7 linked regions of the Homo sapiens genome follow. The protein of the gene in region 1 interacts with the protein of each later gene in a pairwise test. Each region holds a gene or a part of one and is shown in the gene's direction. Other genes may lie near its edges.

Region 1 (3,905 bases):
ACAAAAGCAAATGGCTACTCAACCACCCCAACCCCTCACCACCCCTCACCACGGTACAATGGATTTTATTACAAATTGCATACACCAGATAATTCTAATCTGATGTGAAGGAATTATTTTGCCTTTCTTCAGATTCATTCTCATGACATCAAGTTCATTTGAAATTGCATAACATCTTCAGGAATTCATTGGCAGGCTGCCTGGCAGTTGGATAATCATTTAATATATCTTTCTCTCTCCTCAGTTAATAACGACATGATAGTCACTGACAACAACGGTGCAGTCAAGTTTCCACAACTGTGTAAATTTTGTGATGTGAGATTTTCCACCTGTGACAACCAGAAATCCTGCATGAGCAACTGCAGCATCACCTCCATCTGTGAGAAGCCACAGGAAGTCTGTGTGGCTGTATGGTAAGCAAGCCTTTTAAGAAGTTATTCTTTCTTTTCCCCTTTTTACATAATGTATTCTCATAGTACACACAGTCAGTGTATCTCTGTCTCCTAAATGTAAACACCTGTTCCATTTCCCTTTCCTTTAGACCATCTCTCTTTCGATTATTAAATGTAGTTTCTAGGGGTGTTCTCTGCATGTATGTGTACGTTTATGTGGGTATATAAACGTATCATGATTATAAAATGATCATGATAAATGTAAAGATCATAAAATGATCTTTAATATAATAAATCTGGAAACTCTTTCTTGTATCAAGAAGAGGGATTTGCCGCTTAGTAGTCATTTAACCGACACCTCCTCAGCACCCCATAGTGAGACCAGGAGCTTTGTTCTCTTGAGGCAATCTCAGGTCTGGAAGAAGAGGTGATGAAAGGTTGGCTGTTGGAAGAGAAAACTACCAGCCAAAAATGGGGAATCTACTTGGAGAACCACAAAAACAACCTGTTTTTTTAGTCAGAAATTCTGGTTATATTATTCATATAACCATTGGGATAGATATGACTTCTTTCTCTCAGCTCAGAACTACATATTTCTTTTTTTTTTTTGAGATGGAGTCTTGCTCTGTCATTCAGGCTAGAGTGCCATGGCACAATCTTGGCTCACCGCAACCTCCACCTCCCAGGTTCAAGCGTTTCTCTTGTCTCAGCCTTTCGAGTAGCTGGGATTACAGGTGCCCACTACCACACCTGGCTAAGTTTTGTATTTTTAGTAGAGACGGGGTTTCACCATGTTGGCCAGGCTGGTCTCGAACTCCCGACCTCAGGTGATCCACTCGCCTCTGCCTCCCAAAGTGCTGGAATTACAGGCATGAGCCACCATGCCCGACCAGAACTATATATTTTTATCGGATCACATTTTCTCCTCTCTCTCTCTCTCTCTCTCTCATTCCCTCCAACTCATACATACATCTCAAATAATAATTATACATACACAGTGGATACTCATGAATCATTTGATTAATTCATGGTTATAGATTGTGAGCATGAACAAGAAATAACCTTGATCTTTAGAAGAGTTGTAATTTTACAAAAGTACATAAATTCATTAATGAGATATGACATTTTGCAGACTTATTCTGATGTTTTTAATTTATTGGCCATTTTAAAAAAAGTAACTTATGTGTCTCCTGGCTAGTTGACAAACAAGAATATAAACCCAAATATCTCTCCCCCTTTTTTGGGAATGAGTCATTTGAGACCCCTAGACCATGTAAAGCTAGCCTTGATGATAGATCTGGAAACCTTGCAAACTTCTGTACATACCACGGGATGAACTGGTTTCTTAAGAACTGAAGGAATGTTAACAGCAAAGACTTGTCATGACATACTTGCCAATATGATATGATACCTGTCCATGTCCACTTCTAGGTAACGCTTTCAAAGAAAGGATTTGGACAAAGAATGTGTTCAGAGGAGAGGGACCAGTGTGGTTAGAGGCCTAGAAATCATGCTGTCTGAGGAATGGCCTGGGCAATTAGACATGGTTAGTACAGTGAAGAGAGATCGTGGGTTCTGCTGATGAAATTGAAAGGCTCTCAGGTAGAAAATATAATAAACATATTCTGCATAACTCTGAAGGGTAGAGGGAGGATCCATAACATTTGCAAGGCAGGCAGACTTGTGCTCAGCATAAGTTTAGACATTTTCACAATCATGGTTTCCCAACAGCAGAACAGGCTTCCTTTTCTGTAAGCACCAAGTGAAGTTCAGGAGAGGCTGGATGACCATATGTCAAATAGAATGCAGGAAAGATTGAGACACCAGACTAGATGGCCTCAAAGCTTCCTTCCGTGGTTTCTTAAATATCTACGGTGGTGTGAGCACTTGCTTTTGCAACCCAAAAAGGCTCTTTTAATTAAGATTTTTGTTTTCCTGACCAGTAATACAAGCCCAAATCATTAAATGTGAATCAAGTCTCTCTAGAATAGAGGCTTTGCTAGCCTCAAAAAAATGTGAGCATGTCGAAGAGAGGAGGCCTCCCTGTCTTTTCTGTGTCCCAGCTATAAAGGGTAAATACAATGAACATTATTTTGACCTGTGCTGGCCAAAGAAAATTCTCCCGTGAAGCCAGGGGTGTTGATAATGAGAAGGGGAAGTATAGGGTACGCTATAGTGCCCTCCTTGATCCTCCTTCATGACCAAGGCACTCATTCCCTGGGAGTGTTGGCTGTTGAAGGATCACTGCTGAGCCTTCCCTCCAGTGATGGGAGCTGCCTCATTCACGTTGGACACTTTTCATGGGTAGCCATCATCCCATGGCTAGTTGATGCAGAGAAACAAATTCCTGGTTATTTTGCCATAATGTGGTACATCTTTGAAGGACATCCCATTTTCAGAGTTTCCAAGGCATTCACTGAGGCCTTTGCTGCAACCTGCATTATAGTTTAGCTTTTTCCTTCTGTGCAATACTGTTGCCTTTAGTCGCTTACAGATGCATCTCCAAAAACCTCCTGCACAGAACTCTCACAGCCTCAAGGTCTGTTTCCAGGAAACCTAAACTAAGACAGGAGGCTATTGTAAAAATAGCCAGTGTGGAAACTGAAAGGCTCTACTATGATTGTAGATTTCAGTGTTGTTGTTTTTTTAATCAGTTTTAGTGTTTTTTCATTCATTCATTCATTCATTCATTCATTTAACTAATGTCAGTTGTGTGCCCATTCCATATAAAATGCTTAAGCTGCCTCCAAGGATAGAAATATTTTATAACCAAAATTATTATTATTATTATTTTTAAATTGAGAGGGAGTCTCCCACTGTTGCCCAGGCTGGAGTGCAATGGCGTGATCTGGGCTCACTGCAACCTCTGCCTCCCGGGTTCGTGCGATTCTCCTGCTTCAGCTTCCTGAGTAGCTGTGATTACAGGTGCACACCACCATCACGTGGCTAATTTTTTGTATTTTTAGTAGAGATGGGGTTTCACTGTGTTGGCCAGGCTGGTCTCGAACTCCTGACCTTGTGATCCGCCTGCCTCGGCCTCTGAAAGTGCTTAGATTACAGGCATGAGCCACCGTGCCCAGCCTCCAAAATTAATTTTATCATGTTGGTTCTTCTTTCAGTGGAAATTGACAACCTCTTCAGTGGCTCAGAGCAAATGTTGCAGGACAAAAAAAGAAGTCCGTATTTACTTCTTTGTATTTACCTTTCCTATGCTCAGCTATATCCAAAAAGAGTTTGAAAAGTTAGCTGTGCCTGGCTGTTACAGGAGTGAGTGGAGAAAGCAGTTAAGGGCTTTACCAGGTCTCAAGTATTACAGTTGTTTTCTCTCTGTGATGTTAGTTCTCTCAGTAGCTAAGAGGTAGAAAACCGGAGGCTCTGGAAGAGCTGCCCAATAATTATAGAGCAGCTTTCTTTCATGGCTCACAGTTCCTTCTTAGGCCTCTATAAGCGTCACAAGGAAAAGAGACCATGCCTTTCTGTGGGCACAGCATACCTTCGTTTTATTACCCAAAC
Region 2 (3,905 bases), on another chromosome or scaffold:
TGTCTGGAAGACCAAGTTTTTTTGTAACCCATCTGGCTACAGGACCCAGCCTGACCGGATAGGGTCCTATTTGTAGTTTTTATTTATCCTACTTGGGGTAATAGTCATACATTTCGTTGCAGCAGTTCTAATTTACTTGATTCTGTAGTGCCGTCCCAGATGCTGCCAGGGTGTTACGGAATCAAGGGCCTATCTGCACACCATGCTATCTACTGTCCTTCTTCAGCTGGGACATGTACTGACAGTCTGTACCAAGAGCTCCCTCCACGGGAGCTGCCCTTCCCTCCTTTGCAGCCTCCCACATTGGGTCAGAACTTTCACGTTCCTGCAGAACATTCCCATCCTCACCCAAGAGACAATGCCAGCCTATTTTATCCATTCTAAAACATGCATTTTCTTCCTATTTTAACATCTCGGAAATGAAGATGTCTTAATTAAATCATGGTGTATCATTTATAATTAACAGCAGTTTTTCCTTTCTTGGTAAAGGGCACATAAAATTAAGGGTGTGCCTTACATTTATAACTGGTCCTCATAACCACTCCTAACATTGCTCACTCTCCTATCAGAAACAGGAACACCTTTCACGTCCATGATCTTGTATGGATCTTTACAACAGCCCCTGTCAGGTTGGGATTTTGTCACTGTCATTCCCATTCTGCAGATGAGAAAACTGAGGCCCAGAGAGGTAGAATAACTTGATTAAAATCACAAAAGTAGTACAATGGATAAAAAAATAAAGGCCCAAATAATATCTAAAACTGGTACCCTGCCAGGCTGTAGCTTTTTTTTTTTTTTTTTAGCTGAGGAAACAGGCACAGAGAGAACATTCAGGATCCCATATCCAGGAGGGGGCAGAGCAGCAGCTGACTCCAAGTCTTCTAGTTCCCATTCACGTCAGCACCCTCTCGGAACTGCCAGCTTACAGCCTGTCTTTTCCATTCATTCTGGAGAGCTGTTAGGGAGCAGAGACAGGCCCATCTGTTCCCAAGCTTTCAGGGTTGACCAATCATTAGAGAATGGGACTGAAAAGAAGATGAGAAGGAACCAAGAAGTGTTTGTGCCCTGGAGGGCCTGCAGTATGACTCACTCCTGGTGAGACTGGGAGAGCAGGTAGTGGCAGAATAGGCATGAAGATGGAGACTAGGAAGGATGTGGGCACTCCTCCTGGCTCAAGGAGGGCCTACGGTGAAAAAGATGGCTCATACCCCACCCACTAGGCCTGTGAGCCTGGGAGAGGCTGCCCTTTGATCCCAGGACTTGATCAGACAAGTGGCCAGCTTCTGAGGTAGGGGAGGAACGGGAAGCTTGGAAGGCTGCCTAGAGAGGTCCCATCTGTTTGAGCTGATGCCACAAGGAAGACTGTTCTCCAGGAGGTGAAGGGAGACTGATCTTGACATATTCCACCCTCATGTTGTGGCCCTTAGGAGAGAGTCCCCACTCTTCCACCAGGTGGTAAAGCCCTTTTATGATCTGCAACTCGTTTTAGAGAATCCGTCTCTTCTCCATTCCCCCTCAAGCCCTAAGCACTGTTTCCTGATCACAGTCTTACACTGTGGGTGTGTGAATCTGTCTCTCTGTGACCAGACTTTGACCCCTTGAGGGCAGGGACCAATCCTGGTTCCTGTGTATCCCCTACCCACCTGTGACCCCTGAGAGTGGACCGGGCCTGGTCCCTGTGTCTCCCTGATCAGACCGTGAGCCCTGCATGCTGGGACTGGGCACAAGGAAGGCCTCAATAAAAACCCTGGCAAGGGAGCCAGGTTCCTCAAGGAACAGAACTGGAGCACGGGGCAGTGGGTAGTGTGGCCCGAGGCAGGGTAAATCTTGGTTTCCTCAAGGCATTGTTAGTCAGCCTTTGGCATGGAACACAGCCTTGAGGGGACAGCCAGGGAGAACACCAGTGTGGCCATCCTAGCTAAGGAGATGGATTCCCAAGTCAGAAGGGCATGGTCACCGGCCCACATGAGGGTGAGCAAGGAAGGAAGCCCGAGAGGGGTCTCTGGAGAAGGGAGGGGAAGGAAGAAGTGTGGCGGGGGAGTACTGGAGCTACCTGGAGGGCCGCCACTTGGACAGAGGACAGGCTGCTAAGCCAGGAAGCAGAATCAAAGTAAACAGCAGTCCCCATGTGTCTCCTGTGTGCTGTGCACTGTTCTTGGCTGAGGTACAGTGGGACCCCTACCCAGGGAAGGGCCTGGTCAGCTACGCTTGGGGATTGGCAGGAGGCTGCCGTTGCTGGCCTCAGGGAAGAGGGGCCATGGGGCCGGAGATTTGTTGGCGTGGATTGGGAGGCAAGGACAGGCTGGGGCTAGGATGGCAGCAAAGCTTCCCATTTCCTAGGACAGGTAGGGAACCAGCTGGGGAGGAGGCACCCACTGCCGTCTGAAGCACCAGTTGGCACTGCGCAGCCCTGGGCCGAGGGAGAGCTTCTCTCACTGTGCTCTCCCTTCATCTTTCCTCCTCCTCTGCTGCTGTCTCTGAAGTGTGTGGCCTCAGCCTCTTTCTGGCTCTCTGAACCTGGGCCTCCCTCTGCCTCTGCCTCCACCTCTCTTGTCTTGAGGCCCTTGCCCCCTTTCCCCATGGCCTGGGTCTCTTCTTCCCCTCTCTCCACGCCCTCCCTGCTGGGTCCTGCATGGGCTCAGGCTCCCTTGCCTGGATCAGTAAGTATCTCTCCCTGTGGCACCCTGGGTCACTTTCTTTCTTGCCCTTGCTTTGGTCTCTCCTGATCACCTTCCTGCTCCGTCCCAAGGCACTGGAGGCTCCAGGGGTTCTTGGGCAGCTCTTGCTGGGTGGCGGCAGGAGGTGCTCGCGTGGCCCCAGTTGGGCCCTGCAGCCAGGCCAGCCTGCACTCACCGCCAGGGACTCCTCCTGCTAGCCAGAGGCCTGAGGCGGGCCAGGCAGTTGCCAGCTGAGGCCCAGCTCCTCAGGAAGGGCCGACAGACTCTCTGCGTCACTGCCCATGTGTGTCCACGGGCAGGGGTGCCTCCTGCTCCCTGTCCTTCAGAAGTCAGGAGCAGTGCCGGCTTTCCTGAGACTTCGCGGCCAATCTCCCCTTACCCATGGCCCTTTCCCTAGATCATTACCTCAGAGGAGGCAGAGCGGCGGGGCCAGATCTACGACCGTCAGGGCGCCACCTACCTCTTTGACCTGGACTACGTGGAGGACGTGTACACCGTGGATGCCGCCTACTATGGCAACATCTCCCACTTTGTCAACCACAGTGTGGGTACCCCCGGCAGGCGGGCAAGGGGTCGAGAGGGGCAGGCTGGAGCCCCTCCTCACTCTCCCAACTGTTCTTTCTCGCCCAGTGTGACCCCAACCTGCAGGTGTACAACGTCTTCATAGACAACCTTGACGAGCGGCTGCCCCGCATCGCTTTCTTTGCCACAAGAACCATCCGGGCAGGCGAGGAGCTCACCTTTGATTACAACATGCAAGGTGGGGGTGGCAAGGGACTGGGGGCAGGGGCGCACTGTGACTTGGGACACAAGGACCCCTCCCAAAGGCACACCAGTCACTCAGAGAACCAAGGAAAATTCTTTAGCGGGAGCTTTAAGATGCTCTTCCTGACTCCCAGTCCCCCATTCGGACTACTAGACCCCTGCCTACCCCTCGAGTCCCCTCATTCCCAGCCCCTGAACCCTAACCCTGAGGCATTCATACCAACTTCTCCCAAGATTCCTGGAGAGTTAAGAAACTCCTGACTCCAGTCTTGACTGAGTTTCCCTCATCCCCCAGCCCCTCCCCACTCCTAGCTCCCTTTGGCCTTCTTCATCCCAAGCCTCTGGACACCCTTGTGGCCTCCAGCCAGTCCCCTCCTTGATAAGCTAGCCACCTCTGAGACCCTCAAGGGCAGGTCTTTGGCAGGAGAGTTCAGATGTACCTCTGGATGCCCAGGTGGCCCT
Region 3 (4,340 bases), on another chromosome or scaffold:
AAATGTCGACCCATCCAGATCTTGAGGGAAGTTTTTGTGAGCTCCGCGAGCGCGCTGAAATTTTACCAGAATATTGCACTGGGCATGTGAATTTTTCTCAAAGGAATCCAAGACCCCTCCCCAAAGTTAAGAACCTTGGGTTTAGTTATTCTGGTGAGAATTAGAAAGGAATGGTGGCAAGGGATAGCTCAATTCCTTCCAGAAGTGTCCCTTCCCAGGGCCATTCAGGCGCCTGCCCATTCTTCAGAACCGGGTGCTCGGGGGCGAGGGTGTGCGTAGGCTGAGCATTTCCCGAAGGACAGGAGGGCGAGGAGAGGCGAATTTGAGAGGTGGATTTCTTAGGCACTGGGGTTGCTACCTAAGGGGAGGGGCAGAGTGACAGCTGCTGGGACCTGGGACCAGAGTAGGGGGGAAGCAGAGACCGGTGGTGGGCAGAGGCTGGGAGAGGGGAGGAGAGGAGGTGGTCACCCAGAAAGGTCAGAGAGGGATACCCCGGAAGGGAGAGGGAAAAAAGGACGGGGAAGGGTGGTGGTGGAGAGAAGCGGCGCGGGGTGCGGGGGGTGAGGCAGGGCAGGGGACGGGGGTCGGGGGTCGGGGGAATGGCGAAGGAGGGCAGCCAAGACAAATTTCACACGGCCTAGGCCTAGAGGCGAACTGGAAACATACTTGGCGCTCAATCTTGTTTCCTTCTTTCCTCCCAGTTCCGGGGCAGGGCTGTCCGTTCAGAGAGGGTCAAGGGCCATCGAGGCAACCTAAGGGTTGCTGCCTAAGGGTGGCTCTGTCTCACCCCCAGGACCTGCCCCCTTATCCATTCCCCCTGGGTCTTAGTCCTGCGTCCTCTGCTAGACCGAGCTAGCTCCAGGGCAGTTTTCCACCCGGCGGGGCGGGTCTTAGAACCTGGGAATCACCCCACCCGGGCCCCTCTCCCTGGGAGTGGAGGGGACCAGGGAGGAGCGAGGGAGCGGGCGGCGCACGCCCTAGTTATCTTTCCTCCCCCACTCCCGCCCACCCCCTCCTCGCGGCCCTGGCTGGGCTCCGGTCCAGCCGAGCCCTCAAGGGTTAAAGGCGGCCGCAGGTGAGGTGGGCGGGGCCGCGAGTCCGGGGGAAAAAGCAGCGCTGGGGAGAGGATGAAGGCAGAGAGCGCGGGTGAGTCACGGGCGGAGCTGGCCTTGTTCGCTCGCTGGCTCCTGCCCGCCCTCCGTCCTCCGCCCTCTCGCCAGCGCTCACCTCCGCCGCCTGCCGCCTGCCGCCAGCCGCCGGGTCTGGCTCGCCCTGGGCTCCTGCCCCTTACCGCTGGAGAGCTCGCCGGCGCACAGGGCCTATGAGCGACCGTCAGTAGCGCACCAGCCAGCCGTGCCCGGAGCCCGCCGCAGCCTCGAGGTAGGAGCGCGGGTCGGGGTGGCCAGGGGTGAGCGCTACGGAGATTGTCTCGAAAAAACGCACTCCGAACGCGCCCCAGCCTCCTATGGCCTTGGGAGCGGGGTGGTCCTAAAGGATCTGAGAGGTTAGAACCCCGATGGAGGGAAAACTGGGCGGACGGGAGAGACTGGAGGGACCGAGGAGGCTGGAAACCGGGGCAACTGGAGCGACTGGGACAACCAGAGGACCGGGACATTGAGAACTGGGAGTACTAGCCGGTGATCCAGAGAGGCAGAGCCGAATGGGGCATAAGGGTGCACCGACTTGCCTTCCCACTTCGGGGAGCGAGAAGCCTGCGATGTACGCTGTGCTCTCTCCTTTCCTGAACTCTTTCTAGGCCTGGAAGTGAACCGGACACATACTTGGCACTCAATCCTGTTCCCTTCTTTCCTCTCAGCTCTGGGGCAGGTGGGTCAAGGACCATAGAGGCAACCTAAGGGTTGCCACCTAAGGGTGGCTCCATATCACCCCCAAGACCTGCCCCCTCCTCTATTCTCCTGGGTCTTAGTCTTGCATCTTCTGCTAGACTGAGCCAGCTCCAGGGCAGTTTTCCACCCAGTGGGACTGGTCTTAGAACCTGAGAATCACCCCGCTTTGGGTTTCTGAAATCTTGGTAGCAGGCCATTGCATCCCAGGCCTGGGCTCTCCAGCTCTCTGCCAGGAGAAGCCACTCTGGAGCCCAGATTATCCTAGCCTTCCCATCCTCCAGCCCCTGGGGCAGTTCCCAGGCACCAAAAGCTGTTAGGGTCCCTGGCTTCACAGCTCCCGCTCAGCCCCTTCTGTGCTGCCCCACCCCGGCCTGGGGCTCCTTTCCTGCAACTTCACCCTGTTTTCCTCTTGTGGTGAGGCAGCCGGAGCCTGAGTAGGTGCCCCCGTCCTCCTCTCCCTCCCTCTCCCAGGCTATCAGTGCCACCTCCCTGGTCCCAGAGGCAGGAGATGGTAGGGTCAGCTAAGCCCTGCTGTAGGAAGGAAACAATCCTGCCCTAAGTCACTGGTCTCCTCCCCCACCAGTAGAGAAGACCCAGGCACACAAACCTGCCCAGCTGAGGCACCAGGGCTTCCAGGCCTTAGGGAGAGGTGGTGAGAAAAGAGTGAACTTCAAGCCACAGATATGTGGTTGAGAAAGCGTTGGGGGTCTTTAGCGTTCTAAGGGTCTACAGAAAGATTGGTTTACAGAAAGTAACAGACTGAGAGTCCAGGAGTTAGGAGACCTGGTTTATTGAATGAATAAATGAACATCCTTGTCCAAGTCACTGTGCCAAGTCATTCAGTCTGCTTCCTTCTCTTCAAAATAAGAAGATTGGCCTGGAGCAGTGGTTCTCAACATTTGCTGCATATAAGAATCTTCTGGTGGTGGTGGGGAGCTTCTGAAAAATGATCCATGCCTAGGATGCACTTGCTTATGTCATCTTTTTGGGCAATTCTTGCTCTTAGGTTCTGTGGTTATGACTTCTCTTGTTGCCCTCCTCTTCCTGCACTCTGACCTTGTATCACTTAAAGGGGTGCAATTGTATCTTCCAGAGCTTGCTGTCAAGCTCTTCTCTGGGGAAGCCATTCCCTCCCAACTTTCTATCTGGGCCTCCCCTAGCATGGAGAGGAAGATGGGTAGCAGTCAGAGAGTTGCCTGGCACTGGTATGAGTCAAGAGAGGGATGGAAATTTGGTTTTCTCTGGTGGGGGTATCTCCCAGATTCCAGGGGTATCTGGTGGCCAGAAAGCTGCTCCCCAGGGAGGTGAAGTCCCTGCTTGAGGGAAGGGGGTGGGGGCATGTGAGTCGGTTTAGTGGGCCCGATGTGACCAGGCCAGGCGGGGAGCAGCGTAGACGGTGAAATGCTTTTCATTACTGAACATGCTTTGGGAATGGCATGAGAACTCTTTCAAAGACTCAGGACCCGTTTGAGGCTTTATGAGGGGCAGGTCACCTGAAGCTTTGGGTTTCAGAAATAGACCATCCCCTCTCCCATCTGTATCCTGAGTTAAACTGGGGAAGCTGAGATGTGTCTAGATCCTCCATTTGGGCTGACAGCAGGTCTGCAGGGGGAAAATGCCACTGCCCCTTGTGTTGGCCTGGGCAGCTGGGGTGGGGATGGTTCTAGCACTGTGCTGTAGGTGTATCTGACCTACCATCCTGGGAGTGGCCCAACTCTAGGGATGAGCTGGGTCATACGGCAGGGATCACCCAGAGGAAGGTAGACCTCCATCATCCTCTGTGCTTGGATGAGAACCTCACATCTTGGACCCTTCCTCGCACTCCCGAATTCTCTAAACTCATCTCTAGTCCTCGTTCAGAGGTGCATCCTTCTTTTACACCTGGGGCCAGAGAGGAGGACCTGGGTTAGGAGGGAAAGTGAGCTGGTTATTTCCCTTACTTTTCTGCTTCTTCGCCTCCTTTAGGTCCCGTCTGAGGTGCCCCTGACCGTCCCTGCCCTCACCCCACCCCGGATCCCGGCAATGCTAACCGCTGTCTGCGGCTCTCTGGGCAGCCAGCACACGGAAGCGCCGCACGCCTCCCCGCCGCGCCTCGACCTGCAGCCTCTCCAAACTTACCAGGGCCACACGAGCCCTGAGGCCGGGGACTACCCCTCCCCGCTGCAGCCTGGAGAGCTGCAGAGCCTCCCGCTGGGCCCGGAGGTGGACTTCTCGCAGGGCTATGAGCTGCCAGGGGCCTCCTCGCGGGTAACCTGCGAGGACCTGGAAAGCGACAGTCCCTTGGCCCCGGGCCCCTTTTCCAAGCTCCTGCAGCCGGACATGTCACACCATTATGAATCGTGGTTCAGGCCGACTCACCCAGGCGCGGAGGATGGCTCGTGGTGGGACCTTCATCCGGGCACCAGCTGGATGGACCTCCCCCACACTCAGGGCGCGCTGACCTCACCTGGCCACCCGGGGGCGCTTCAGGCGGGCTTGGGGGGCTACGTCGGA
Region 4 (3,905 bases), on another chromosome or scaffold:
ACACCCAGCTGGGCTTAGCGCCATCCCAGCAGGTTTAAGGCAGGCCTCTAGACCATCTTCCTAGAGCTCCCTGCCTGTCCCTGTTGCCCGCAACCATATAGTGTGGGCATAGGAGGCTCTAGGCAGGAGCTGGGCTGGAGCCAGGTGGTATCAAATTTCTCCAGTGGCTGAGTCGGGAGATCTCTCTGGGGCCATTGGGAATTAGGCTGCTTTGTCTTCCTGCTGGGTCAAATTTATTTTCCAAAACTAAAATTTTGTTATGCCAATAAATGACTTCTGGTCAACACAATGTTCCAAGGCTCTGTGCCAGTTGACCCCTACTACCCCCTCCTCCCAGCCCCAGGGAGAAGAGAAAAGGGAGTGGACTAAAGTAGAGAGGGAAGAGAGGCTGGGCTGTGTGCACAGAGGGCACCCACTGCAGGCCAGGCTGGGTTAGGAGGAAGAACAGGAACATACCAAACTCCACCCTCTAGCAGAACTCTAGGGAACCCAGCTCGCCCTGCCCAGGCCAGGGACCTAAGAAGGTTCTACAACATAATTGTCACTCTTGCTCTGCTGTACCTGGCCTTTCTCATTTTAACTCACCTCAGCTTCTCACCCTCACCACCCTCTTCCATCTGAACTGTAATTTGCCCAGAAATGAAGAGAGAGTGTGTTTAGCAGAGTTCCCATCTTTGGAATGTCCTTGCTATGGAAACTTCTTGTTGCCAGTTTCTAGTCAATGACCAGGGCAGCTGGGTAGAGCTGTCTTTCTGAGGGCAGAGGCTGGGGGCATATGCTTCCCACCATTTGGCTCCCTGGGGAAGCAAAGCTTCTCTGGACTTTTCAATGCCTGCCTGTGGCTCCTGCCACCATAGACAAGTTCGTGGGCTTCACAGCCACACTTCAGACTATCACTGCAAGGCTGTTTCCTTAACAGGAAAAAAAATCAACCCGCTCCCTTGCATAAACCAGGCTCCCACTCTCATTGAGACAACCACTTGGAGAGTGCTTTTCCCTTTTTTTTCTGGGAGTGCGCCATGGCTGGGTGAAAATTACATCTCTTGGCAGCTGCTCTAACAGCTGGGAGGGAAGCAGTGAGTACAGTGGAGAAAGGGCAGCTCTTGGCAGAAGTCGCCACCCTGGTATCTGACCCAGAAGAGAAGTTTGGAAGAAAGAAATTCTCCGGTGTTAGCACTGACACCATGGGCCAACGATCCAAGTGCCATAGAGTGGAGCAGATTTAGGCAGGGCCCGCCTCAGCTAAACCCTCTGAGTCTCCAGGGGTGATGACAGCCCCAAAAGAGCTCGATGCCAGGCAGTCACTGCCTCCCCTTGCCCCATTCTCGCTCCCCACCTCAGAACCACACAGAGAGAAGGGGTTTCATGGCATCTGGCCCAGAGCAGTGAGGCAGCTTGTCCTGTTGAGAGCTGTAGAGCCGGGCAGGCGGGCCTTATAGACACTGAGTCCATGCAGGGCTCGGGGGTGGGCAAGGACACAGTCCTCTCTTGCTGGAACACACTCCCTGTGTTCACGCCGACATCATTCCAGCCCCTGTCGCGGAGCTGCCAAATTGGATTTCCTTGAATAGTGCCGTCAGTGTTGTCCCAGCTCCAGCTGGGCCCAGTAGCTCCCCTGGCCACTTCCTCTGTCTAGCTTGGTTGTGGGGGTTGAAGGGTTTGGAGTTGGGAGTTGGGATAGAGAATTTAGGAATGGGAGCAAGAATATTAGGAGCAAAAATCGGGAGGCCCCCCCATGGTGGCTCATGCCTGTTAATCCCGACACTTTGGGAGGCCAAGGCAGGAAGATTGCTTGAGGCCAAGAGTTCGAGACCAGCCTGGGCAACATAGTGAGATGCTGTCTCTACAAAAAATAAGAATATTAGTGTGGTGCAGTGGTACACGCCTGTAGTCCCAGCTACATGGGAAGCTGAAGCAGGAGGATCGCTGGAACCCAGGAGTTCGAGGCTGTGGTGAGCTATGATCTTACCACTGCACTCCAGCCTAGGCGACAAGGAAAAATAAGAAAAAAGAAAAGAGTTGGGAAACCCTTATCTGCACTGGATGGGAGCCCTTTCCTATCTCTGCCTCCTTTTGCCAACAACCACACCCTCAAAAGTAACTTTTATTATCTTTGTCTCTGTTCTCCAGATATTCTGTTAGGAGGCCAGGAGGGTTAGGGTTTCCTTTGCCCTGCCCTGCTATTGGGTCCTTCTCTGGTCAAAGATTCAGCTCTAACAAAGGAAGGGTCCACCTGTGAGACCTGTTCTGAGGACCAGCCCTGTACCTTTCCCCCATAACAACTTTGAACTCAGTCTCTAGCTTCTTTTTTAAAAAATATTCTTTTTTTATTTTTTAAAGATGGGTTCTCACTCAGCCACCTAGGCTGGAGTGCAGTGGCACAGTCATAACTCCTGTGCTCAAGCAATCCTCCTGCCTGGGCCTCCCAGGTAGCCGGGACTATAGGTGCACACCACTGTCCCCAGCTTGAACTCAGTCTCTAACCTACTTCCTTTTCCTGTTTCACTTCCAGGTGACCACTGACTGGGACCTTCAGAAGGGCACTGGCTGCACTGAGGGCCACACAGGGACCTCAGCTGCAGCGCCTCTGGCAGCTGGCATGATAGCCTTAATGCTGCAGGTGCGGCCCTGCCTCACGTGGCGTGACGTCCAGCACATCATTGTCTTCACAGCCACCCGGGTGAGATACCAGCAGGTAGACAAGTGGCCTGGCCCAGCCTGCTCCAGAGTTCGGGTATCAGGTGGCCTTAGATTCTCAATGTCCCAAATGTTAGATACTAAGTCTCTTTCAGAGTCCCTTTCAGAGTTGCATATGTAAAGAACAGGTGTGGGGACCCCACAAAGACCACAGGCCTAAACTCATTTTATCTGCAAAGGGGAGCTCTGGCTGTGCCTCCTGGCCCCTTCTCTAGAAGCAAGCCAGTGGGGTGGTGACATCATGGGCTTTGACCTTTTGTCCCAGCTTGCCTTGGGGAATCCATTCCCAGTAGCCATAGTGGGAGAGCGTGGACTGGATCAGCCAGCAGGGCAAGCAGGGAAACCAGAGTCAGATTGTTGAGACTACACTGGCAATGCAAGAGACTAACCAGGACCTCTGTCCTTTCAGTATGAGGATCGCCGTGCAGAGTGGGTCACCAACGAGGCAGGCTTCAGCCATAGCCACCAGCACGGTTTCGGCCTCCTCAACGCCTGGAGGCTCGTGAATGCAGCCAAGGTGAACAGGTGTTGGCAGGGCAGGGTGCCCTGTGTGGAGTGACCAAGGGTCGGAGCTGAATGCCCCAAACTGCCTGGGATATCATAGGTGCCTAGTAAATGTTCATTCAGTTCATTGATTTAACAACTTCAACCTTCATCCCAGCTGATATCCATTTTACAAATGAGAAAGCAGGCTCAATGCTATCACTGAAGTTTCCAAACTACTAATAGAGTAAATGGGACCTGAGTATGTGTGGGACTCAGGATGCTCTGGTTCCCCTCCTCCACCCTGGACACAGCTGTTTCCTCTGGTTCCTTAGCTGGGGGCTGTACGGAGCATTCCAGCGAGCAAGCAGGAGCTGAGGGCTGAAGGAAGATGATGAGGAGTGGAAAAATAAAGACAGCTAAACCTTCAAGATCGTATTGACAAGGGCGTGTGTGTTTGTGAGAATGTGGGTGTGATCATTCTTGTTTGTTGATTTGCCATCCCCTCCTTTCCTTTCATAGATCTGGACATCTGTCCCTTACTTAGCATCCTACGTCAGTCCCGTGTTAAAAGAAAACAAGGCGATTCCGCAGTCCCCCCGTTCCCTGGAGGTCCTGTGGAATGGTAAGTAATCAGCACAAAGGGGGTTAATCTTAGGCCTGAGGTTTGGGGCCGGGTGACAAGGAAGTTAAACTCGTCCTCCCTGCCAGATTCTACCCCCTTT
Region 5 (3,905 bases), on another chromosome or scaffold:
GATTTTTATGCCCATGAAAAGAAAATAATTTATTAGTTTGTTTGTAATCCCAGCTGATAATAAACTTGTCTCCTGAGCCCTTATAGCTTTTGTTATATTTATAACTTCTTGTGTTTATTTCATGCTGTTTGATACCTGTGTTTGTAATCTTCTTCATGTTCCTTTATTTTGTCATTCTAAATAAACTCAAACATTCTTAATGTATATACATTTTTAACTAATATGATGCTTTTAGATTTACAAATCTGAGTGAGTATCTGGATGGTTAGTGTAGCTTTGCTTTTTAATCTTATCATTCCATCTAAGAGAGGTTGATCACAATTCTCATTTATGCAGGGCAATTCCTGTTGAACTGGTATAATTTTAACCTAAGATCCTACTCTGAAAAAACACTTGGTCAACCCAGACAACTTTTTAGGTAGAAGACAACTTTTCTCCAACTACAATATCAGGAATATATCATATTGCTAAATTTCTTATACTCCATCAGGTTTAGGCAGATTATCTTGAACAAGGTATTTTTCAAAGTAATTTTCATAAATTGTTTTTCATAAAAGTATATTTCAAAGTATTTTTTATAAATATCATAATTTTTTTTTATTTATTAAAGTTACTAATTTCCCCTGAAAATGAAAAGAGAATAGAGTTGTGGGCCGGGTGTGGTGGCTCATGCCTGTAATCCCAGCACTTTGGGAGGCTGAGGTAGGCAGATCACTTGAGGCCAGGAGTTCGAGACCAGCCTAAGCAACATGGTGAAATCCCGTCTCTACTAAAAATGCAAAAATTACCTGGGCATGGTGGCACAAGCCTGTAATCCCAGCTACTAGGGAGACTGAGGTATGAGAATCGCTTGAGCCCAGAAGGCAGCTCCAGCCTTCGCAACAGAGTGAAACTCTCTCTCAAAAAATAAAAATTTAAAAAAATGAGAATAGAGTTATACATTTCTATCAGGTAACAGAGCAAGAATGCTCTGTTTTGGGGGGTGGGTGGACAACATATACCCCTGGACAGAGTACATAGCAAAATTTTTAGTAAAAGCAAAGCTGAAATATTTGTTTATTTAAAACCTGTTGATACTTAAAACCTAGAGAAAGACTGATAAGAAAATAAGAAATAAAATGAGGAAAATGAGATTGAGAAAACCCAGTCCCCTCCACCCCCCACACATACATGGGGATTAGAAGAATGGAACTGATTAGCTACTAAATTAAGAAGTGAAATTATTATAAAAATATAGTCCATAACTCTGTAGTATCAAGTGAGAGCTTCGCTAAGGTCATGACAAATGGGAATGAAGAATTAACAGCAAATTGAAAGTTGCATATTATATTTCCCAATGTAAATTTATTTTACTAATTAGTTCTGAAAAATTGACGTTATCCATTAAATTGAATCCTTTAAGCATTAGTAGACAGTTTATCAGTTTTCATCAAACTAAATACAAACCTATGTATAAAACCAAAATTCAATAGCTATCAATGCCTTAGATTCAAATAGCATGAATCAACCCTTTAAAGATTATAAGTCATATTCATCATTTGGAATATAATTAAAATGCTCTAGATTATTGCAGGTTAGCTTTTAGAGAGTCTTAAGAAAATGATTGCATGGATATATTTTAATGTGATAAAACTGACATTTTCTAGATTTATCTCAGCCTACCCTGGACAAAATATGTTCTCACTGTGCATTATTTTAAACCATCACAGATGTCCTTAACATCTACAGATTCTCTCTATGTAAACTACATCCAAATTGCTAAATTTACTTATAGAATTACAAGTTTGTAAGAAATCATAAGCCTAATGAATGGCAATAGATGCTTATGTACATCTATCAGCAATTATTTGTTAAGATATTTGATATTTAAACAACAAACTTTCATATATTGTAGAGATCTACTAAAGCTCTAAAGGCAGTGTATGTAGGGGTGAGGGGAGTTTAGAAGAAAGATTGGAGATTATATGCTTAATTTGGTAGTTTTACCTTTGCTCTGTTATATTATGTATTAAATGTGAAACCAATAATGCATGTTTGGAATGGGAAGAATACCATTTTGATTGGAATAAAAGTAAATGTCAAAATTATCTCTGTTTTCATATTTCACATTACTAAAATTCCTTATACAGGCCCTGCAGAGCTAACAAAGTATTTGAGACTCTCTCCCTACCAACAAATAGTTCATGAAAACACAGAGGGAAAATATGTACTGTAAACCTCTTAATACGATTAGTGCCAAGTGATAAATTTAAAGATTACATAAAGGTTTCGAGGAGGTAGATATTACGCTATGCAGGGCTGCCTTACGGGGTATCAGAGGAATGGAAAAAGTGCTGAGGAAACAGAAGATGTAAAATAAGCAAACAGAAGGCAGAGGAGGCTGAATGATTCGTTTGCAGGCCATACATCTCCTTGGAAATCAACTAAGGTAGGTTTGGAAAAGAATGTATAAGAGCATAATTGTGGAGAAAAGACTTACCTAATTTTAGTAATTTACAGAGTCTATTTCTTTTCTCCATAGTTCTCATACTTAGTTCAACCAAATTCATCACTCCTACATTATATACTTGGAAAAGAAGCTTGTTTACTGGATGTGTGAACTAAAAGATAAAACCAGTTCCAGTTGCCCAAGCCCTGAATCTTCCATCTGTGGTGCTCAGGATTTGAGGAGTTACCTACTTCTTTATCTCAGGGACCACAAAATTTCTCTCTCCCTCTCTTTTCCTCTCTCCACTATCTCCCTTCTCTTAAATACATACACTTATCTCAACATGATCAATATTTCCAAGTCCAGAGGGAGACATGAAAGGCAACAGCAAACGCAATGACGTGTGACTATTCGGTTTCACTAATCACTTGTCCAGAATGCAAACCATACTGACCATAAATGAGCTTGCAAATAATCCTCATTCTTATGTAATCTGTATTTTAGACATATAATTCTAAATACTATCAGCCCCTGCCAGTGGGAGCTGGCCTGAAGTTGAGCTCCTAAACTCTTAGCTGATATCACCCATTATACTGTTTTGTCCCATTACATTTGAGGTGTGGCAACCTCCAGAGAGAGAGAAGAATGTATTTCTCAAAGAATTTCTCAAAGATTTTGTTACTCATTTATATAACTCATTTATAGTCATTTGTATAACTTTTAGTACTTCTCTGTCTCTTGTCTATTTTCTTCCCCAGAAGCTTTTAATCCCTTAATTTTCAGCTTAGTTTCTCAAAGCCAGGTCATTTGTTAGTTCCAAACTGTTTTGATAAGAAGTGTGCAACTTCTTATCCATTAGGAGTTATTTCTACACTCTAATCACAACTTCTGTTGGTTTAGCATTGCCATTTAGGCCCACTCAGCACTCAAAACAGCTCTGCCGCTTTCTGCTATGTGATGAGGAGGACATTTTTTTCATCAGAAAAATTGTGATTCAGACTTTCTCTTGAGAGACATTTGGAAAGGTGTTATTACTGTGCTTCATAAGTCATTTGACAAACTAAGTAAGAAGTAGGGTAGGTATTTTGCTTCTGTGAAGCAGATTCATTTGGGACAATAAAATATGGAGACTGTTAGAAAATTAGATATCATACAGAAATCCAAACCACTAATTTTGCTAAGTGACTTGGCTTTTTGAATAGCTCTCCAAAGGACTGGGCAAGGAACAGTCTTACTCATAAGCATGCCCTCCTGTAGCTTATAAGATAAAGACTGTATTTGGGTGGTCTTCTAGAGTGAATATTTTATTTTCAAAATTTTATTAATTTTTTAATGACTGTAATTTCAAGTTAACACATCAAAAACTGAGTTCACTACCTAGTGAATTCTTTAATATTGCATGCACATATAAAATAGTTCCTATTTACCTAAAACAAAATAAATCAGTAAGCTCAGACAAAATAGATATATAGATTTT
Region 6 (3,905 bases), on another chromosome or scaffold:
CTGTCTGTTTTTTCCTCCAGGTCAGTGACCTATCTTTTCATGACTCGCTGGCTACTTTTGTTGCCATCCTCATCGCTCGGCAGTGTTTGCTCCTGGAAGATCTGATTCGCTGTGCTGCCATCCCTTCACTCCTTAATGCTGGTGAACTACCAATCTGTAACCCCTAGCATTTCTAGACCTCAAATTTCAATACACACTGGACGGCCATCCTCTCATTGTTCACTGTGGGAGACCTTGCTGCGGCTCCCTGGCCTTCCTCAGAAGGCCAGTCCTTTGGTATGCTGAAGGCTAGAAGAAACCTGTTTTTTAGCCCTGGATTTGCAGCCCTGACCTTTCCAATTTCTGACCCTTCAACTGCGTAACAGTTCTCTGCTCTACCTCGCTTTCAATATTATCTTGCTTTTTCTCCTTTCACTTTACCTCATCTTCTCTCCCATGCCCCTGCCATACACTTGCATGCATGCAGGCACGCACACACATAAACCCACATACAGTTTAACTTCATCCCTTCCAGATCTGTTTTGTCTTCCTTTTAGCTTGTAGTGAACAGGACTCTGAGCCAGGGGCCCGGCTTACCTGCCGCATCCTCCTTCACCTTTTCAAGACACCGCAGCTCAATCCTTGCCAGTCTGATGGAAGTAAGTGACCCTGATCTGAACCAGCCAACAGTAGAAAGTGTGGTTCCCCTGCCTCCGTGGATTCTACTTTTGCTTCCCCTGACTTCATCGCCTTCCCCAGACAAGCCTACAGTAGGAATCCGCTCCTCCTGCGACCGCCACCTGCTGGCTGCCTCCCAGAACCGCATCGTGGATGGAGCCGTGTTTGCTGTTCTCAAGGCTGTGTTTGTACTTGGTACGGGGGTAGGAAGGGAGTGGTGCCAGAAGTGTGTATAGGGTGGAGTGCCAGCTAAACTACAAGGGACAGTCTTTCTCCCTTCTGAAGGTGGTCTCTCTGACCTTTGGGGAGGAGGGGAGGGAGAGAAGTATATTTCTGTCCCATAGGGCAGGATTTGGGGTGTTTCTACCTCTGTGGGCCCAGGGTGGGTCTCCACACGTGTTCCAATCTCACTCTGCCCTCCCTATCTCCCACCCGTGAACCACAGGGGATGCGGAACTGAAAGGTTCAGGCTTCACTGTGACAGGAGGAACAGAAGAACTTCCAGAGGAGGAGGGAGGAGGTGGCAGTGGTGGTCGGAGGCAGGGTGGCCGCAACATCTCTGTGGAGACAGCCAGTCTGGATGTCTATGCCAAGTACGTGCTGCGCAGCATCTGCCAACAGGTCAGTTTCACCTTCCTCCCACACCTCCTAAATGCCTCTGTGTAATATAGTTCTGTTTCCAGCCCATGATCACACCAGCTCCCTACTATACATTGTGTTCCTTAACAACTCCAGCCCATCCCCCATATTCCTAACCCCCTCACTGGTTGTTCCCAGTCCCTGATTGTCAGCTTCCTCAGGAATGGGTAGGAGAACGTTGCCTTAAGTCTCTGTGTGAGGACAGCAATGACCTGCAAGACCCAGTGTTGAGTAGTGCCCAGGCGCAGCGCCTCATGCAGCTCATTTGCTATCCACATCGACTGCTGGACAATGAGGATGGGGAAAACCCCCAGCGGCAGCGCATAAAGCGCATTCTCCAGGTAGGCCAAGGCCGTGGGGGCTGTGGAGGAAGCAGTGGGCCCAATCTGGGGAGAAACAATAGGAACCTTGAGAAAAGGAGAGGGGCAGTTAAGTAGAGAGGAAGACAAACAAGGATATAGGGGAGGGGAGAGGTAGCGAGAGAAACAGCTCCAGCATGGGCTGAGGAGTAAGTCCAGTAGGGTCTAGACTCCAGTGTAAGAGTATTAGGTGAGGGCATAGCTATCTGGAGTGAATCTAGCTTATCAATGGGAAGCATAGCATCTGGGAGGCCTAGGTGTGGGCCGTGTATATTTGGCATTTTGGCCATGGCTCAGGAACTGAATAGTAATAGCTACTACTTGCTGAGCATGTGCTTTGTGCCAGGTACTGTGCTAGGCACTCTGCACACATTTCCTCATTTAATCTTTATGACCCTATGAAGTAGGTGAGCCTCCCTGTTTGACCGATGAGGAAACTGAGGCTTGAAGAGGTTAAGTAACTTGTCTAACGTCACATAGCCCATAAGTTTAGAGTCAATATGTGAACCCAGACATGTCTGTGCACTTTCCTCTTCACATTGCTTCACACCTTCAGATGACCAGAGAGTGGAAAAATAAAGCCGTTGAGGAAAAGCTAAAGGAATAAGGTCTCTTCAGCCCAGAAGAGATAGTGTTGAAGAGAGATTAGCTAACAGTAGCCTTCTGGTCTCTACAGGACTTTGAGAGATTGTCTTATAAAGGTTCTGTCAGGGACTTTGAGCAGCTGGTCTAAAACAAGAGAAGCAGGCTTCAACTTTAACATCAAGGGTTTCAAGGTTAAGCATTAAGCAGAACTTCCTGATACGAAGGGATGGGAAAGATGTGAAATCTTTCCTGAACTATTTTAAAAATTGGAAAGATTTTCAACTAGTTTGGACTATTTAAATGTAGTCTTTTTTTTTTTTTTTTTTTTGAGACGGAGTCTCGCTCTTGTCGCTCAGGCTGGAGTACAGTGGTGCGATCTCGGCTCACTGCAACCTCTGCCTCCCAAGTTCAAACAATTCTCCTGCCTCAGCCTCCTGAGTAACTGGGATTACAGGTCGCCCATCACCACGCCCAGCTAATTTTTGTATTTTTAGTAGAGATGGGGTTTTGCCATGTTGGCCAGGCTGGTCTTGAACTCCTGACCTCAGGTGATCCGCCTGTCTCAGCCTCCCTAAATGTAGTCTTTCTTAAAGATGGGGACATAGAGGTCCCTTTCAGACCTCCAGGAGTCTGTGATTCAATGTTGCAGGAGATCAGGAATTGGCCTCAGATTGTTGGGTAGCTGGGGGTAACACGATGATGACTAGCCTGGGTGTGGGGCCTCTATCACAGAACTTGGACCAGTGGACCATGCGCCAGTCTTCCTTGGAGCTGCAGCTCATGATCAAGCAGACCCCTAACAATGTGAGTAGTGCCTGGACCCTCCCTTTCCTGTGCTCACGTTCAGCTCCATGTGTCAGGGAGGCGGTCCACCACAGAAGAACCTAGATCCTACCCTTGGGCTCTTGAGCTGAGAGATAAGAGGGGATGGGAAAATGGTGAACAAGTGGAGCTGATGATAAGGGAAATGGGTTGAGAGTGTTGGAGCTCTGAGCTGTGGGGAAGCTTGGTGGTGGTGGTGGAGCCTGTTTCTCTGGCCATAGATGTAAGGAGGTATGTAAAGGAGAAGACAGTGAGGAATTGGAGAAATATGGAGGTACTAGAGGGCATGATTCCCAACAGAGTTGCGTTCCTATCTCCCCATCAATCTCCGCCAGTGTTGTCCTTCTCCGTCATCTCCGATCTCTCCTACCATCTGCTTTCCTTCACCCTTAGCTACCTATTTTAGCACTTCTGTGCCTTTCATCCTCCCCAGGAGATGAACTCCCTCTTGGAGAACATCGCCAAGGCCACAATCGAGGTTTTCCAACAGTCAGCAGAGACAGGGTCATCTTCTGGAAGTACTGCAAGCAACATGCCCAGCAGCAGCAAGACCAAGCCTGTGCTCAGGTCGGATAGAAACATGTTAGGACCCATCCCCTTAGGAGTTTATCTGCTGGTAGCGTGAGTGATATCAGATGCGTGGAGATGCCAGCATGTCCATCAGGGAAAGGAGAGGATAGATTGTTCCAGCCTTGCCTGGCTCCCCTGTGACCCTGTGTCCTCTGTCTGTTCTCCAGCTCTCTAGAGCGCTCTGGTGTATGGCTGGTGGCCCCCCTCATTGCTAAACTGCCCACCTCAGTCCAGGGACATGTGTTAAAGGCTGCTGGGGAAGAATTGGAGAAG
Region 7 (3,905 bases), about 99 Mb from region 1:
CTTCTTTACAAAAAATACAAAGATTAGCCTAGCCAGGCATGGTGGCGCCTGCCTGTAGTCCCAGCTACTGGGGAGGCTGAGGCAGGAGAATCACTTGAATGCAGGAGTCTTACACTGCAGGGAGCCATGATCATGCCACTGCACTCCAGCCTGGGTGACACAGTGAGAACCTGTCAAAAAAAAAAAAAAAAGTAGGGTGCAGTGACTCACGCCTGTAATCCCAGCACTTTGAGAGGCTGAGGGGGGTGGATCACTTGAGGACAGGAGTTTGAGGCCAGCCTGGCTAACATGGTGAAACCCCATCTCTACTAAAAATACAAAAATTAGCTGGGCATGGTGGCAGGCACCTGTAATCCCAGCTACTTGAGGCTGAGGCAGAAGAATCACTTGAGCCCTGGAGACGGAGGTTGCAGTGCACCGAGAGCGCGCTGCTGCACTCCAGGTCAACAGACTTCAAACTTCAGAATTTCCTATTTCTTATCTGTACCTGCTGACGCTCTTGAGAGTCTGTACACTTGAATTCCAATACCTCCCCATAGCTGAGGCAGGGTGATGGATCTGGCTGCTTGTTTTTCAGTTTCTTCTGTATTATGATGACTGGGCCCGGCCCTTTTTTTTTTTTTTTTTTTTTTGAGATGGACGCTCTGTCGCTCAGGCTGGAGTGCAGTGGCGTGATCTTGGCTCACTGTAACCTCCAACTCCCTGGTTCAAGCAATTCCCCTGCCTCAGCCTCCTGAGTAGCTGGAATTACAGGCACATATCACCACACCCAGCTAATTTTTTTGTATTTTTAGTAGAGATGGGGTTTCACCATGTTGGCCAGACTGGTCTCAAACTCCAGGCCTCAGGCAATCTGCCTGCCTTGACCTCCCAAAGTGGGAATTACAGAGATGAACCGCCGTGCCCAGCCTGATGACTGGGTCCTTTATTACTCCAGCTCTAATATTGAATAGGGACTGGAGTATGATGTGGAGAACAGCTGTAAGCTGAAACCGGTAAATTATTTCATTTCTTAGAGACTCACCCAAATTAGAGATAATATATACCATTCTTTGGATTTTTTTTTTAATTTTATATACGCACATGTATATGAATACACCCATATTTATGTATGTTTGTTTTAAACACTGATAGACATTGTTTCTTAAGGTACTATAAATATGCCATGAAATAGCTATAACCTAGTTTGGCTGTCTCTCTATTGCAGGACAGTTAAGTTCTTTCCAATATTAAATACAATGCAATCAATGTTTTTCCTAAGGAGAGATTGTAGAATGAGGTTTAAGGCTTGATGAGGATCATCTGGAATGAAAACTTCAAATGTTTTTAGGCCATTAGATGATTTAGGCTTAAGGCCTGAATCAGTTCTGAATGTTGTTTGAAACTTGTAAATAGTATAATGGAAATGTGTTATTTTTTTCTCCTTAGGAACGAAGACCCTTTCTGGCCTCAGAATGTACTGAACTGCCTAAAGCTGAGAAGTGGAGACGACAGGTATGTTCTGGGTAAATCTGATTTCAGTAGAAGTAACAAGTCTCTCATTTCTTCTTATTATCTAAATGACTGTTAGACCAAAAGTCTAAGTATTTTTAAATACTAATTTTGAATTATAGTTTTTCTGTGCTTTCTAACATATTCAAAAATTATTAAAATGTATTACTTTTTTTTAATAGATCATTGGAGAGATCTCTAAAAAAGTGGCTCAGATTCAGAATGGTAAGCAAACTTGTTCCTTTAAAGTGCTTGATTCTCAAATCCACAATTAGACTTGAGGACTTCAATACTCCTTTCAAAATAATCAATAGAGCAAGTAGATAGTAAATCAGTAAGGACATAGAAGAGCCAATCAATACGATCAGTCAGTTTGATGTAGTTGAAAGTTGTAGAATACTCTGTCTCACAACACTGTACCTAACAATAAAGAATACGTCATTTTTTTTTTTTTTTTTTGAGACAGAGTCTCACTCTGTCACCCAGGCTGGAGTGCAGTGGTGCGATCTCGGCTCACTGCAAGCTCAGCCTCCTGGGTTCACGCCATTCTCCTGCCTCAGCCTCCCGAATAGCTGGGACTACAGGTGCCCACAACCACGCCCGGCTAATTTTTTTGTACTTTCAGTAGAGACAGGGTTTCACCATGTTAGCCAGGATGGTCTTGATCTCCTGACCTTGCAATTCGCCCGCCTCAGCCTCCCAAAGTGCTGGGATTATAGGTATGAGCCACTATGCCCGGCCTAATACATGGTCTTTTTTAAGAGCACGTGGAACATTCACCAAAATAAAACATATTCTGGGCTGCAGAACAAATGTTAGCAAATTTAAAATATTTGAGGCCGGGCGCAGTAGCTCACGCCTGTAATCCCAGCACTTTGGGAGGCCGAGGAGGGAGGATCACCTAAGGTCTGGGGTTTGAGACCAGCCTGACCAACATGGAGAAACCCCACCTCTACTGAAAATACAAAATTGGCTGGACGTGGTAGCGCATGCTTGTAATCCCAGCTACTTGGGAGGCTGAGGCAGGAGAATCGCTTGAACCTAACGGGCGGAGGTTACAGTGAGCCAAGATCACACTATTGCATTCCAGCTTCAGCAACAAGAGTGAAACTCCATCTCAAAAAAAAAAAAAATTGAAATTACACAGAGTATTTTCTCTGATTATAACAACAGATTCATATCTGAAAAATTCCTAAATATTTGGAAATTAAACAACATATTTGTAAATAATTCATGTGTCTGAGAGGAAACAGCAAAGAAATTAGAAGATATTTTGAATTTAATTAGAGTGAAAACGTAATGTCAAAATTTAGGGGATGAAAAAATTTATGGGATATAGTGCTTAGATAAAAATGTATAGCACTGGCCTGGTGCGGTGGCTCACACCTGTAATCCCAGCACTTTGGGAGGCCGAGGCGGGTGGATCACGAGGTTAGGAGATAAGAGACTATCCTGGCCAACATGGTGAAACCCTGTCTCTACTAAAAATACAAATATTAGCTGGGTGTGGTGTCATGTGCCTGTAATCCCAGCTACTCAGGAGGCTGAAGCAGGAGAATCGCTTGAACCCGGGAGGCGGAGGTTGTAGTGAGCCAAGATCGTGCCACTGCACTCCAGGACTCCATCTCAAAACAAACAAACAAACAAACAAACAAAAAATACATATATAGCACTGAAATAATAGAAAATTATGAAAGTTTTCAAATCAGTGATCTAAGCTTCTACCCTGTGAAATTAGAAAAGAAGAGCAAATTAAACCCAAAGCAAGCAGAAGGAAGGAAATAGTAAAGATAAGAAATCAATAGCATTGAAAACAAGATGAATAGAGAAAACAGACCAACAGCTGGTTCTTTGAAAAGATCAATAAAATTGCTGGGCGTGGTGGCTCACGCCTGTAATCCCAGCACTTTGGGAGGCCGAGGCGGGCGGATGACGAGGTCAGGAGATCGAGACCATCCTGGCTAACACGGTGAAACCCCGTCTTTACTAAAAATACAAAAAATTAGCTGGATGTGGTGGCAGGCGCCTGTAATCCCAGCTACTTGGGAGGCTGAGGCAGGAGAATGGCATGAACCCAAGAGGTGGAGCTTGCAGTGAGCTGAGATCGCGCCACTGCACTCCAGCCTGGGAGACAGAGCGAGACTCTGTCTCAAAAAAAAAAAAAAGATCAATAAAATTGATAAACTTCTAGTCAGACTGACCAAGAAAAAATATACACAAATTAAGAATATTAGGAACCAAATTGGGAATATTACTATAGAATCTATATACATTAAAAGGATAATAAGGAAATATTACAGACAATGTTATGCCCATAAATTTGACAACTTAGATGAAATAGGTCAATTCCTTACAAGACACAAACTGCCAAAGCTCACTTAAGAGAAGTGGTCCTTTTTTTTTTTTTTTTTTTT

The links.
Region 2: the proteins of TGFBR2 (region 1) and SUV39H1 interact in binary tests that used the Homo sapiens proteins (3 or more experiments, as listed by UniProt).
Region 3: the proteins of TGFBR2 (region 1) and SP6 interact in binary tests that used the Homo sapiens proteins (3 or more experiments, as listed by UniProt).
Region 4: the proteins of TGFBR2 (region 1) and PCSK7 interact in binary tests that used the Homo sapiens proteins (3 or more experiments, as listed by UniProt).
Region 5: the proteins of TGFBR2 (region 1) and GPM6A interact in binary tests that used the Homo sapiens proteins (3 or more experiments, as listed by UniProt).
Region 6: the proteins of TGFBR2 (region 1) and MED12 interact in binary tests that used the Homo sapiens proteins (3 or more experiments, as listed by UniProt).
Region 7: the proteins of TGFBR2 (region 1) and ISY1-RAB43 interact in binary tests that used the Homo sapiens proteins (3 or more experiments, as listed by UniProt).

What each region holds. Positions count from the first base shown.
Region 1 is NC_000003.12:30,644,503-30,648,407, forward strand, and holds part of TGFBR2 (TGF-beta receptor type-2 isoform B precursor), read left to right. Parts: intron 1-244; coding exon 245-413; intron 414-3,905. UniProt on the Homo sapiens protein: Transmembrane serine/threonine kinase forming with the TGF-beta type I serine/threonine kinase receptor, TGFBR1, the non-promiscuous receptor for the TGF-beta cytokines TGFB1, TGFB2 and TGFB3.
Region 2 is NC_000023.11:48,703,190-48,707,094, forward strand, and holds part of SUV39H1 (histone-lysine N-methyltransferase SUV39H1), read left to right. Parts: intron 1-3,075; coding exon 3,076-3,222; intron 3,223-3,308; coding exon 3,309-3,438; intron 3,439-3,905. UniProt on the Homo sapiens protein: Histone methyltransferase that specifically trimethylates 'Lys-9' of histone H3 using monomethylated H3 'Lys-9' as substrate. Also weakly methylates histone H1 (in vitro).
Region 3 is NC_000017.11:47,847,959-47,852,298, reverse strand, and holds the start of SP6 (transcription factor Sp6), read left to right. Parts: upstream 1-1,135; 5' UTR 1,136-1,380; intron 1,381-3,812; 5' UTR 3,813-3,869; coding exon 3,870-4,340. UniProt on the Homo sapiens protein: Promotes cell proliferation. Plays a role in tooth germ growth. Plays a role in the control of enamel mineralization. Binds the AMBN promoter.
Region 4 is NC_000011.10:117,218,366-117,222,270, reverse strand, and holds part of PCSK7 (proprotein convertase subtilisin/kexin type 7 preproprotein), read left to right. Parts: intron 1-2,512; coding exon 2,513-2,680; intron 2,681-3,106; coding exon 3,107-3,214; intron 3,215-3,702; coding exon 3,703-3,805; intron 3,806-3,905. UniProt on the Homo sapiens protein: Serine endoprotease that processes various proproteins by cleavage at paired basic amino acids, recognizing the RXXX[KR]R consensus motif. Likely functions in the constitutive secretory pathway.
Region 5 is NC_000004.12:175,696,909-175,700,813, reverse strand, and holds part of GPM6A (neuronal membrane glycoprotein M6-a), read left to right. Parts: intron 1-3,905. UniProt on the Homo sapiens protein: Involved in neuronal differentiation, including differentiation and migration of neuronal stem cells. Plays a role in neuronal plasticity and is involved in neurite and filopodia outgrowth, filopodia motility and probably synapse formation.
Region 6 is NC_000023.11:71,128,578-71,132,482, forward strand, and holds part of MED12 (mediator of RNA polymerase II transcription subunit 12), read left to right. Parts: intron 1-20; coding exon 21-141; intron 142-536; coding exon 537-638; intron 639-738; coding exon 739-852; intron 853-1,102; coding exon 1,103-1,278; intron 1,279-1,457; coding exon 1,458-1,637; intron 1,638-2,972; coding exon 2,973-3,044; intron 3,045-3,495; coding exon 3,496-3,629; intron 3,630-3,799; coding exon 3,800-3,905. UniProt on the Homo sapiens protein: Component of the Mediator complex, a coactivator involved in the regulated transcription of nearly all RNA polymerase II-dependent genes.
Region 7 is NC_000003.12:129,154,444-129,158,348, reverse strand, and holds part of ISY1-RAB43 (ISY1-RAB43 protein), read left to right. Parts: intron 1-1,428; coding exon 1,429-1,494; intron 1,495-1,673; coding exon 1,674-1,716; intron 1,717-3,905. Other genes in the region: pre-mRNA-splicing factor ISY1 homolog, read left to right, coding at 1,429-1,494, 1,674-1,716. UniProt on the Homo sapiens protein: Component of the spliceosome C complex required for the selective processing of microRNAs during embryonic stem cell differentiation. Required for the biogenesis of all miRNAs from the pri-miR-17-92 primary transcript except miR-92a.